Linked DNA regions of Homo sapiens. Each later gene encodes a partner of the first gene's protein in a complex. Each region holds a gene or a part of one and is shown on either strand. Other genes may lie near its edges.

What was found. Proteins that work in one complex are often made in the same cells at the same time.
Region 2: the proteins of TNPO3 (region 1) and CPSF6 are in contact, whole or in part, in a crystal structure (PDB 6GX9), measured with the Homo sapiens proteins. Residues at the interface, in NP_036602.1 of Homo sapiens: Arg620, Asn656, Arg657, Glu660, Arg661, Arg664, Arg667, Phe668, Arg671, Ser698, Cys699, Tyr702, Ile706, Asp709, Asp747, Asp750, Asp751, Arg754, Arg758, Gln761, Cys793, Arg797; in NP_008938.2 of Homo sapiens: Tyr521, Arg522, Glu523, Arg524, Ser525, Glu527, Arg528.

What each region holds. Positions count from the first base shown.
Region 1 is NC_000007.14:128,954,112-128,961,145, forward strand, and holds the end of TNPO3 (transportin-3), read right to left. Parts: intron 3,356-7,034; exon of another isoform or gene 3,205-3,355; coding exon 3,144-3,204; 3' UTR 3,113-3,143; intron 1,275-3,112; coding exon of another isoform or gene 1,256-1,274; 3' UTR 74-1,255; downstream 1-73. UniProt on the Homo sapiens protein: Importin, which transports target proteins into the nucleus. Specifically mediates the nuclear import of splicing factor serine/arginine (SR) proteins, such as RBM4, SFRS1 and SFRS2, by recognizing phosphorylated SR domains.
Region 2 is NC_000012.12:69,270,569-69,274,892, reverse strand, and holds the end of CPSF6 (cleavage and polyadenylation specificity factor subunit 6), read right to left. Parts: 3' UTR 535-4,324; downstream 1-534. UniProt on the Homo sapiens protein: Component of the cleavage factor Im (CFIm) complex that functions as an activator of the pre-mRNA 3'-end cleavage and polyadenylation processing required for the maturation of pre-mRNA into functional mRNAs.

The DNA.
Region 1 (7,034 bases):
TCCATAGCTAGTCTAGCTGAACCATTTCCGAGCTACAAGGCAGTGAATGAAAGTAAAAACAAAGAAACACTGGTTAAATTTTAAAAATTTATTCTTTCTCTTTTGTTGCTGTTGATTTGTTCTTGAGATGGCTACAACACCAGACAGAACAGTGCCCTCATATCTGATGGCTGTGAAGGGCTGCACTCCTTTGAAACATTAAGATCTGCTTTGGGCTTCCCTCTTCGGCCTCACCCTCCCCTTAAAATCAAGTCATTTCCACACTTTTTAGTAACATACTAAATGACACATCATCCCTTGTTAGCCCTGTAAACATTTTTTCTCCACACACCCTCCCTCTTTTTTTCTCTCATGTCTGTGGGTGAATAATTCACTAAGAAAAAAACCTTAAAAAACAAAAACTTACACATTTATATCCTGCACTCCCCACCCACCCGCCCACCCCAGTTTTGGCTCTTCTCTCCAAGGCAGACAACAAACTGATGTGGATTGGAAGTGGACTGAGAGAATGAACGGGGTCAGGGTTCAGATATCCATAAATTCTGACCCTGGCAGGTCCCGAGCATCACCAATGTGACCACGATAGAAAGCAGAACAAGTTCCTTGCTTACTCCTCCTTGTCTAAACAACTCTAAAGGTGGGAAGAAACAGCTGGGGAAGGTAGAAGAAATTTCTACTCATTTGCATTTAAAAGGAGGGGAGAGAGAAAGAGAAGGAAGGGTAGGAGAGGAAAGAGAGGACAAAACAATAGAAAACCTGAACAAATGACCCTGACCCTCTTCTTCCAATTGCAGCTATTTAATTCATGTGAATCCCCACATTATCCCTAAGTAAATATTTTGTTTCACAGAAAGCTTGTCCTTTTGTTTTTCTGTGTACACGTGCGCACTGGCGCTTGTGCGTGTATGTGTGTGTGCGTGCATGTGTCATTTGCTACCAGGTGAATGTTTCAGTTCTGGTTTCTGTTTAGTCTTCCTTTTTTTTCTTTTTTCTTTACTTAAAATTATTTTTCCTTTTAGAAAGTTCACCAGGAAACCAGCTCCCCTCCCACCACGCCGGGCAGGCCACAGCCATCTTTTTAAAATCCGCGCTGATTTTCCCTCACACCCCCAAACAGGAACTCCTCAGGATGGCCTCAGAAGGCTGGAGTCTCTCCCTGTCTGGCGGGACACCCTGGTGGCGGTGAAGGCCCCTCTGCCACAACGGAGGTTTCTGATTGTGGGACACAGTCTGGTTTTTGTTTTCTTCCTGTCTTCTAATTAAAAAAGACATTCCTGACAAAAGAGATAAGACAGTCAATAACTGCACCAGAAAATAGAGCATTTAGTAAAATCAACCTTAAGGCAGAGGTTTCTATATTTCCTCAGGTACCTCATTCTGAAGTCTGCCAATAAGAACTCAGAAAAAATAAACAAATAAATAAAAGTCTGGCGTTTTAACTTGTGGGTTCAAGGGAGCTACTGCTTTAATGAGACACCGTCTGCAGTGTGCTTCCAATGCTGAGTGTGCTGTGGAAACAAGGGATGATGTGTCAGGAGGGCAAAGAGCCAGCAGGTCCAGGCCTCCCATTCCAAAGCAACCAGGGAAGCTTTGCCTCAGTCTGCTAAATCCCACAGGCTTCATGTCGATTTTATTTTGAAAGAAGGCTTTGCCTACTAATAACAGTTGAAAACAAAACAAAACAAAACACCAATTTAGATGCTATCGAAAGGATACTGTATTAAGCGGAGTGGTTCAAAGTGAGGACTCTGGTACCAGAATATCTACATGTGAATTCTGGCTCCACGAATAACTGTCAGGCAAATTGTTAAACATTGTTGAACCTCAATTTCCTCATTTGTAAAATGGGAAAAATAGTAACAAATCCAGAAAAGCAGATGAGGATTATCTTAGTTAATACATCTAAAACACTTAAAACAGTGCCCTGACACACAGTAAGGGCACAATAAAAGTTAACCATGAACACCTACAGCTGTCCATGAGCAACCTTATGAGGTGTATCAATGTCAGCTAACCCAGACACCATGCAAAACCAGGACATCCCAAATGATATTATTACTCATTAAAACAATCAAAGTTGAGAAATGATTTTGGGTGTGGCAAGGCACTGCTGAACATCACTTTTACCTATGAATGCATTTAACACAGAAACTACCAGTGAGTGCTACAGATTCATCAAGAATTGCCTCCTGGGAGAAGAAACTCACCTTGAGACATCAAAGGGTGGGCTTAGAGGAGAGCTACCTTTCTTCTCTCCATCAAGAAACTGGCACCCAAATTCTACTACCCACTCCTTTCAGCTAAGCTTCTTGCTTTGCTTCAGAACCAGGAGACGGAAAGCACGTGGAGAAAAGTGCTCATCGGGAGCCAAAGATGCTCCTCCTCTCCTGTAAGGGCCAAGCATCCCTAACAGCTGAAACTTTTTGAACGCTGATATGACCCTCAAGCGAATGAGCATTGGAGCATTTTGGATTTTGGATTTTTGGATTAGGAATGCTCAACTGGTGTGCATTCTGCAAATATTCCAAAATCCCAAAAAATCCAAAATTGAAAAACACTTCTGAAAGTGTTTTTTCCTCCGAAATCCCAAGCATTTCGGATAAGGGATATTCAATTCATACCTCCTGCCCTGGTCAAAACCTGGCACTTCAGCATTCAGGTCATAAAAGTGATAAGAATAAGCTCTTTGCTCATTACATCTGGAGGGTCAGTTTTAGGAGACTGGCACCACATATAACAGTCAACTTGAGGTTGTTTTCGCCAAAGTGGCCAGGTTAAAAATACTTATTTGTTTGTTGCCATGTACACTTACCATCTTAGAAGTGTCTGTAAGGGGAAGGGGGAAGAAAATGTTTCAATGCACTGTGTAACAGTTACTTTCTTATGGAGGTGAAAATGGTACCCCAAAGACACTGACAATTACTGGCTGCCCAGGCCCAAGAAAATCCGGGCCCTGTATATTCCAGCTGTTCACCACAGTTAAACTGCTGAGTCCTTCCCTGACTCTAGCTATAAGACTGGTCCCATGATAGGCATTAAAACCTATCCCCATTCCCAGGCATCCCCAACAGTCCGACAGTCCGGACAAAAGCTGGGAACTATGTATCCTCACCTGGGTGACAGGCACAGTGCAGGAGTGTGAGCTATCGAAACAACCTGGTGAAGTCTCGCAAGGCCCAGCAAACTTGTTTACATTCCTCAGCACTAGAAAAGAAAAGGTAGGTTGGTCCTTGACTGAGGAGAAAGACAGAATATGCTGAAAAACAACTGCAACATTGGGGCACACTGAGAACCGTCCCAACTCTGCTAGGAGCTCTCTCCATCGTCTCCTGAGCGATCCTGGCTTCAGATCTTTCTGTAATTCAGGGCAAAAATTATTATATATGAGAAAAGTTATAAGCTTGGTGGTCTTCAAAGGGTGTACTCTGGACACAAACTGCCCGAGTTTGAATCTTGGCTCCACTGTGCCCTTGAACAAGTTACCAATCTTTGTCTCAGTTTCCTCATCTATTAATATTATCTACTTCATAACACTGTTTAGAGGATTAAAATCGTCCACATACAGAGTGCTTATGAAAATAGAGCAGTGAACAAAATAGTATTCAATAAATGTAGGCTGCTACAACAACACTTGGTTGCTACGGCTCTCATAAGTTTCCTCATTCTCTTCCAAAGATAGATTTTGTTTACAAAGGCCGGTCTAGCAACTAAGTCTCCACCAGTCATTGATTTTCTAGTTGAACAGGCTGCTCAGGATTTCCTCCTGTGGGAGGAGGAGGGAGAGAGGAAAGGGTTAAAGCATGTAGAAAGAGAGACAAAGCAGGAGATGCCTATGTGATATGAATAGCCCAATATTCAACTGACCCTGTTTTTTCAAAAGCCCCCCGACCTCCCTTTGTCCAAAACTGTCACCAAGAAACCAGCTGATGCCAGCTTCATTCTACTGTATCTGTCTTCATAACAGTTTTTGCTAAATGAACATAAGGCTAAGCTAAAAGCTAAAGCAGTGGAGAAGGAAGCACTTCCTTTTTTTTTTTTTTTTTTTTTTTGATATGGAGTCTTGCTCATGTCATCCAGGCTGGAGTGCAATGGCACGATCTCAGCTCACTGCAACTTCCGCCTCCCAGGTTCAAGCGATTCTCCTGCCTCAGCCTCCCCAGTAGCTGGGATCACAGGTGCCCACCACCACGCCCGACTATTTTTTTGTATTTTTAGTAGAGATGTGGTTTCACCATGTTGGCCAGGCTGGTCTCGAACTCCTGACCTTGTGATCCGCCCGCCTCGGCCTCACAAAGTGCTGGGATTACAGGCATGAGCCACCGCGCCCAGCCAGGAAGCAATTCTTAATATGCTTGCCTTCCTGTAGCCCTCTCCCTGGCTCAACTAACTCAGATACCAGTGCCTACAGCCAAGGATTCAATGCAGATGAAAACACACTTTCCATCTCATAATGGTTAAACACCAGGGGAGGAAACTGCTCTAAGCGATCCAACAGAAAAGGTGAAAATAGAGCTATCCATTTAGGTTCCTACATCCAGATTTCCCCATCCATTGTAAGTTCTGAAACATCATTAAGAACCTTGACTTAGACTCCATGACTTGATTCAACAGAACATTCTAGAAACTTTCTTCTAGTCTCTCCATCCTAAAAATGTAATGAAAATAAGGCAGGTGGCCAGGCACAGTGGCTCATGCTTGTAATCCCAACACAGGGAGACCCCGTCTCTACAAATAATTTAAAACTTAGCTGGGTGTGGTGGTGCACACCTGTGGTCCCAGCTACTCACGAGGCTAAGGCAGGAGGATAACCTGAGCTGGGGAGGTTGAGGTTGCAGTGAGCCATGATTGTGCCACTGCACTCCAGGCTGGGCAACAGAGTGAGACCCTGTCTCAAAAAAAAGAAAAAAGAAAGAAAATGAGAAAGGTCTTTTGGCTTTATTGGAATTGCCATTACCTCTGTGGATTTAATAAGCTTCAATTTAAGTGTTACATTTCTCATTTTACTTCCAAATTAATACTGACTGTTAAGGAGGCAGCCAGGGTATGTGAGCCCATATCACTCATGCTCCCAATGTCAGGAAGGAGGAAGATCTGTAACCCAAGAGAAGTTGCTATGTGGTGTGTTATCACAAGGGACTAGGATAACAGAAAACCCTGAAAGTTAGGACAGTGCTGGAGACCGAGATTTTTTTGCTATCCTAATGTCTTACATGTTTTAAATTTTACCCTTCCTCAAGAGACTTCTGTTTTGTTTTGTTTTCAGAACAGATAGAAACAGGGTCTCATTGTGTTGCCCAGGCTGCTCGAACCTCTGGGCTCAAGCTATCGTCCTGCCTCAGCCTCCAAAGTGCTGTGATTACAGGCGTGAGTCACTGTGCCCAGCAGAGACTTTGGAAATGATAACTTCACAGCCTCCTTTGTGGCACATGAGAAAAAGTATTGAAACTGAAATGCAAGTGTGGGAGAACTTTAGTGCGATAGGGTGAAATGAGGGACAGGTGACACTGTCAACTTGGCTTCTGCCCCAATCCTATCTGCAAGTGCTTTGGTGTCAAACACTTCAGCCAAATGTTTAACTGAAGTGTCCTTGGTGGGGAGCCCATAGAAATGGATCAAAAAGCTCCTTGAGGCCGGGCGCGGTGGCTCACACCTGTAATCGCAGCACTTTGGGAGGCCAAGGCGGGTAGATCACCTGAGGTCAGGAGTTTGAGACCAGCCTGGCCAACATGGTGAAATCCATCTCCACTAAAAAGACAAAAATTAGCCGTGTGTGGTGGTGGGCACCTGTGATCCCAGCTACTCGGGAGGCTGAGGCTGGAGGATCGCTTGAACCCAGGGGGTGGAGGTTGCAGTGAGCTGAGATCACACCACCGCACTTCAGCCTGGGCGACAGAGCAAGACTCCGTCTCAAAAAAACGAAAAAGCTCCATGAATGTTAGAACTATAGTTATGTGCTACAATGATGTTTTGGTCAATGATGGACTGCATGTATGACAGTGATCCTATGAGTATAATAGAGATGAACAACTGCATGTTGCGTTACTCACATGCTTGTGGTGATGCTGGTATAAACAAACCTACTGCACTGCCAGTCATATAAAAGGACAACACAAACAATTATCTACAGTATACAATAATTGATCATAAGCAACTATATTACTGGGTTATGTATTTACTATACTACACTTTTTATCATTAATTTAGAGTATATTCCTTCTACTTACAAAAAAAAAAAATTTACTGTAAAACAGCCTCAGGCAGGTCCTTCGGGAGGGATTCCAGAAGAAGACATTGTTATCCTAGGAGATGGCAACTCCATGTGTGTTACTGCCCTTGAAGACCTTCTAAGTGGGACAAGATGTAAAAAGGTGGAAGACAGTGATATTGATGATCTTGACCCTGTGTAGGTCTAGGCTAATATGTGTTTGTGTCTTAGCTTTTAACAAAAAAGTTTAAAAGCTAAAAAAAAAAAATAAAGTAATTTTAAGAATAGAAAAAAGCTTATAAAGATATAAAGAAAAAATTTTTTAATGAGCTGTACAATTTGTGTTTTAAGCTAGGTGTTATTACAAAGGAGTCCAAGAGTTAAAAAAAATTTAGTTTATAAAGTAAAAAAGTTACAGTAAGCAAGAGTTAATTTATTATTATTATTATTATTATTATTTTGAGACAGAGTCTCACTCTGTCGCCCAGGCTGGAGTGCGGTGGCACAATCTCGGCCCACTGCAACCTCTGTCTCCCAGGTTCAAGCGATTCTCCAGCCTCAGCCTCCTGAGTAGCTGGGATTACAAGTGCCCACCACCACGCCTGGCTAATTTTTTAAATTTTTAGTAGAGATGGGGTTTCACCATGTTGGCCAGGCTGGTCTCAAACTCCTGACCTCAAGTGATCTGCCTGCCTCGGCCTCCCAAAGTGCTGGGATTACAGGCATGAGCCACCGCGCCTGGCCAAGGGTTAATTTATTATTGATGAAAAAAATTTTTTTATAAATTTAGTGTAGCCTAAGTATACAGTATCTATAAAAAGTCTACAGT
Region 2 (4,324 bases), on another chromosome or scaffold:
ATCCCAGTGATGGTAGTATTATTTCTCATGTTCATATTCACTTGTTTAGAACTGTTACCTTTAATACTCTGAAGCTTGCAGGTAAGAAATCTGAGGCCTGATATTAATACCTGGCACAGAAATATCTACTGAAATCACTGAAACTGAAGTCTGTTACTGTTTCAAAAGTACCCCATAATGTTTCCAAGCTAACCAGTAAAATATTTTTGCTACAAACATTTTTACTTAAGTCTAGTAAGGTTAATGATCCTCTAAAACTAGACAAATGCTTTCTGAATCTTCCATTTAAAAACCATGTAACAGCCTGGAAATCTGTCAGGCCTCTTAATCCTAATTTTAGCCCAATTATCAGTCGCTTTAAAGAGCACCAAAATGTCAATACACAAGAAAACCACCACTATCTGGCTTAAAGATAGAATACAGACAACAGTCCAATTTCTGCTATACTGCATATTGCCAATAAACATTAACTACTTAAAACCATACACAATGGTTACCAAATAACAAATTAAACAAAAAAGACAAACTGCAAAGTCTTATCAAAAGTTTGTTTTATTTTCAATACAAGATAAATACCATGCTTGTTACTAGTGCAGTTTAAGGCCGACAATGGCCATATATCAAACTGCCGAACAGTCACCTAAATGCTAAAGAAAGGAAAGACAAAGTAAACATTAAACACAAAATTGCAATTACAAACATTTTAATAAAATGGAATGAGCTTTTTAATTGAAGCTAATATGAAGTCTAATTCTCATGGACAGCAAAAAAAAAAAAAAAAAAGTCTATTAGATCAATTATCACCTTACCTTTTTGCACAGAAATCTTATTGTGAAGTCACCATAGAGTCAATAGCTAAAATTTTAAGACTTTCTTTGGCCTTCTGATATTAAACAAATTATTTACAAACTGTGATCAGTAATTCGTGGATATTGGTAAAATGATACAATTTTTTGTTGTTGTTGTTAAGGGCTTTCCATTAAAAATTGTAAAACAACTTTGTAAGGCTGTACAGGGCTGTAAACTACTTTGCTAATATACCATGGGATGCAGAGGAAGGAATAATAGACCTTTTTTTTAAGGCTAAAGTTATCAATGTTATAGATGCATTCCTTAAAATACATTATGATTTATACCCAAAGGATCCTTTCCCATTAAATACCACCTGAGTACTACAATTTTCAAAGTAAAAAAATAAACATGAATTCACCATAGTTATTTTAAAATAATTTAACTTACAGAATGTTGAGAAGTGTTACGCAGTAACAGTGCGACAAAAAGAACACACTTTCAAAACAAAATGTTTTCGCTAAATGCAGGGTCTGTCCAATTATGAAATTAATGTAAAACATTTACACCCATGGCAGAGTTTTAGGATACTCCCACGTGAAAAAAACTCTTGGTAGTATTTACTATGCAGTTACCACTTCAAGATGTGTGTGACTTCAATTAAATTCAACCTAGTATTTAAAAGACTCCATTACAATATGTTAATACAGCAGGAAGTCTTTAAAGACATTAAAATCTGTCGTATATAATCAAGTATTTATACGTCCCATACAAAAACCATAGTAGCTGCATACTCAGTGAATGCCACAACCTGAAATTCTAAAAAAAGAACATTGGTTAAGACAAACCTAAATCAATCTGAACAGTGTTGCCTGAATATTTAGAATATTCACAAAAATTCATATTGCTTCTTTCTAATGCCAAGAAAGAAGAGTATAAGAACTTCCTCCCAGAAGCCTAGACATTTTAATACATTTTCTATTTCAACTTACAATGAAACTTTAATCCTGAATCTTGATTTATCTAAATCAAAAATCTCACATTACGAACACAAGGAATGCCATATGTAAGGCCACATCTTAATAAATTTATAATTTTTGGTTGAATATTTATTGAAAAAATCAGTCTAAGGCTTCTAAGAGTCAAGTTGCTTAAAAAAATAAATACACCAGTGTTTAAACTGAAGTTAAGGTTAAAAAAACGCATACACACACACACACACACACACACACACTGTAAGAACAGAAAAATAGAATGCTTTGCTACAAAAATCCCACTTAATATATTTTAGCACAAAAATGTCTAATATACACTGGATAAGCGTGCATTTACGTACATACAACTAGGGGAAACATTTACAGAGGGCTACGGGATGCAAATGAACTTAATGAGTAATAAAAACCAGTTGTTATCTGTAAAACAGAGAATCTCAATACTGTATTCTCAGTCAAGAATTAGAACATAAACTTCCTCTTAAGCTGAAGCTTAAAACACAAAATTGGAGCCATTTTAGAAAATACAGAAAATGCAATGATCATTCAGGTATGAAAACCAAAATGTCGAGAGCACTCCAACAGAAAAGTCTTGTAATGCATCTCATTGTATAAAACAGTATGTATTTAGATTGGCACAGTTAAATACATAAGGGAAAGAGAAAGTCTTTGCCCTTTCCACAATTTTCCTTCACTATAAAATATTATACAACATTCATTAAAACCTCCATGTTTATTTTAATAACTGACCTGAAACTAGTAAAAAATAAAGCAATATTCTCCACAGGAGAATTAAATGAAAATAGTATCTTAAGCTACAAGTTATCTGTGTATTCCAAATTGTCATTAACTGCTTAAGAACATTCTAGGTAAAAGGACCATTAAATGGGCTAAACTATGATCAAAAGCCACTGCAACTTACTCCAAACCTTATGAAAAGTGACAAAAAAAAAAAACACACATCTGCAAATTTACACTGGAATATGCTTTCCACAACATAGTTCCTTTAACCAAAAGCAGCACTTTCAATCCAAAGTGTTGCCTCAGAAGCAGTACCATTCAGGTACTGTATCACTCATCTGTTTAACTTTACTACTGGCTGAAAGGAATGTGACTGTATAGCACTAATAAATGCTATGTTTTAAAATTCAACTCGTTTGTTTTCACATCCACTACAGTTATTAACTAAGGAAAAAATGAAAAGGTCTCTGAGACACTGTTTTTGGTGTCTATGCAAGGATTTATCTCTTTGGATTGTTTTTACACATTAAAAAAAGGAAGAGTTTTCAAATAACATTAACCCATAAACAACTGAAGGGGGTATGAAGAACAAAACAAGGCCTGCAATTTTCACCTTTACTGCTATACATTCACGTGTTATCAGGTAGAGAAGGACTTTGCAAAATTACTTGGTCAAACCAAGAAGTTATTTCCTTCTGACAACACTTAAAATAACGGATTAGCAGCAAACAAATCTAGTACACTCACACTGTCTGTAACGAAAGTCATGTAATGAGATCAGCCAAGCAAGGAGAAGAGTGATATAGAAGGAGCAATTAAAAGGTTCCATTGATAAAATATGAAAAGGTAAATAAAGGATTTAATTAGTATAAAATTTCCAGTTTCATTTCAAGTGCAGTTAGATTTTTGTGATTCCATTTTTAAACTGTTCAAAGAAAATTTTATTTTCATGGACATTTTACTTACCTTTTAACCCTTTACTATTAACTAATTTCTCTTGTAATATTTATATGTCCATACTTCTTCGCATTAGGGCATTGTAGTCAAAATATTAAAAAGCCAAGAAATGACACAACAATATACAGAAAACAGGAAAATTTTGATACAACTCTAAAATAATGTTAAAAAAGCAACCGCATTTTCAACAAAATGCTTTAAAAAATCATTTCTGAAAGTGAACAGTTCTGATAAACATCAACGATCCCATGCACAGATACTTCAAACACAAAATATTTTAAAATAAAACTGGCAGTGATATGGGTAATTCAAAACAGCTAATTTTGTCAGAAGTGGTTTGATAGCAGACAAGATGAAAGTGAAGAACAGCAGTGGAAATTTCTGGAGGGTTTCTACAGTTGCACATAACACAGTATCTAGGGTATTTTAACACTTTAAGCATTGTCCTAGAATTTGGGTACTCTTTAACAACCAATGTGTATTAACAGAAGATCTCTCAAAGATAATCAGATCTTAAAAACATATTAACGTGCTCAAGAATTTTAAGTCAAATTTCTGAAGTAGTGATTTCAAATTACATTCCCATAAAAACACCTAATCAAGTTGACACCCTGCCTCTGCCAATTTTGCAATCAAGAACACATGCTAGTCAGGTGCTTTTAAAGTGGGCCTATATGTAAGGCAGGTTTGAAAAAAATCTTTGATTAAGTAACTATAGCATGAATCAATACGGTGCATGAATATACATAGTATTCCTTAAACTGTGCAGACACGGTTTATCTGTAATTTCCCATTACAAATACTGGGGAATACAACCGAATGTTAATGAACATCACATCCTTCAA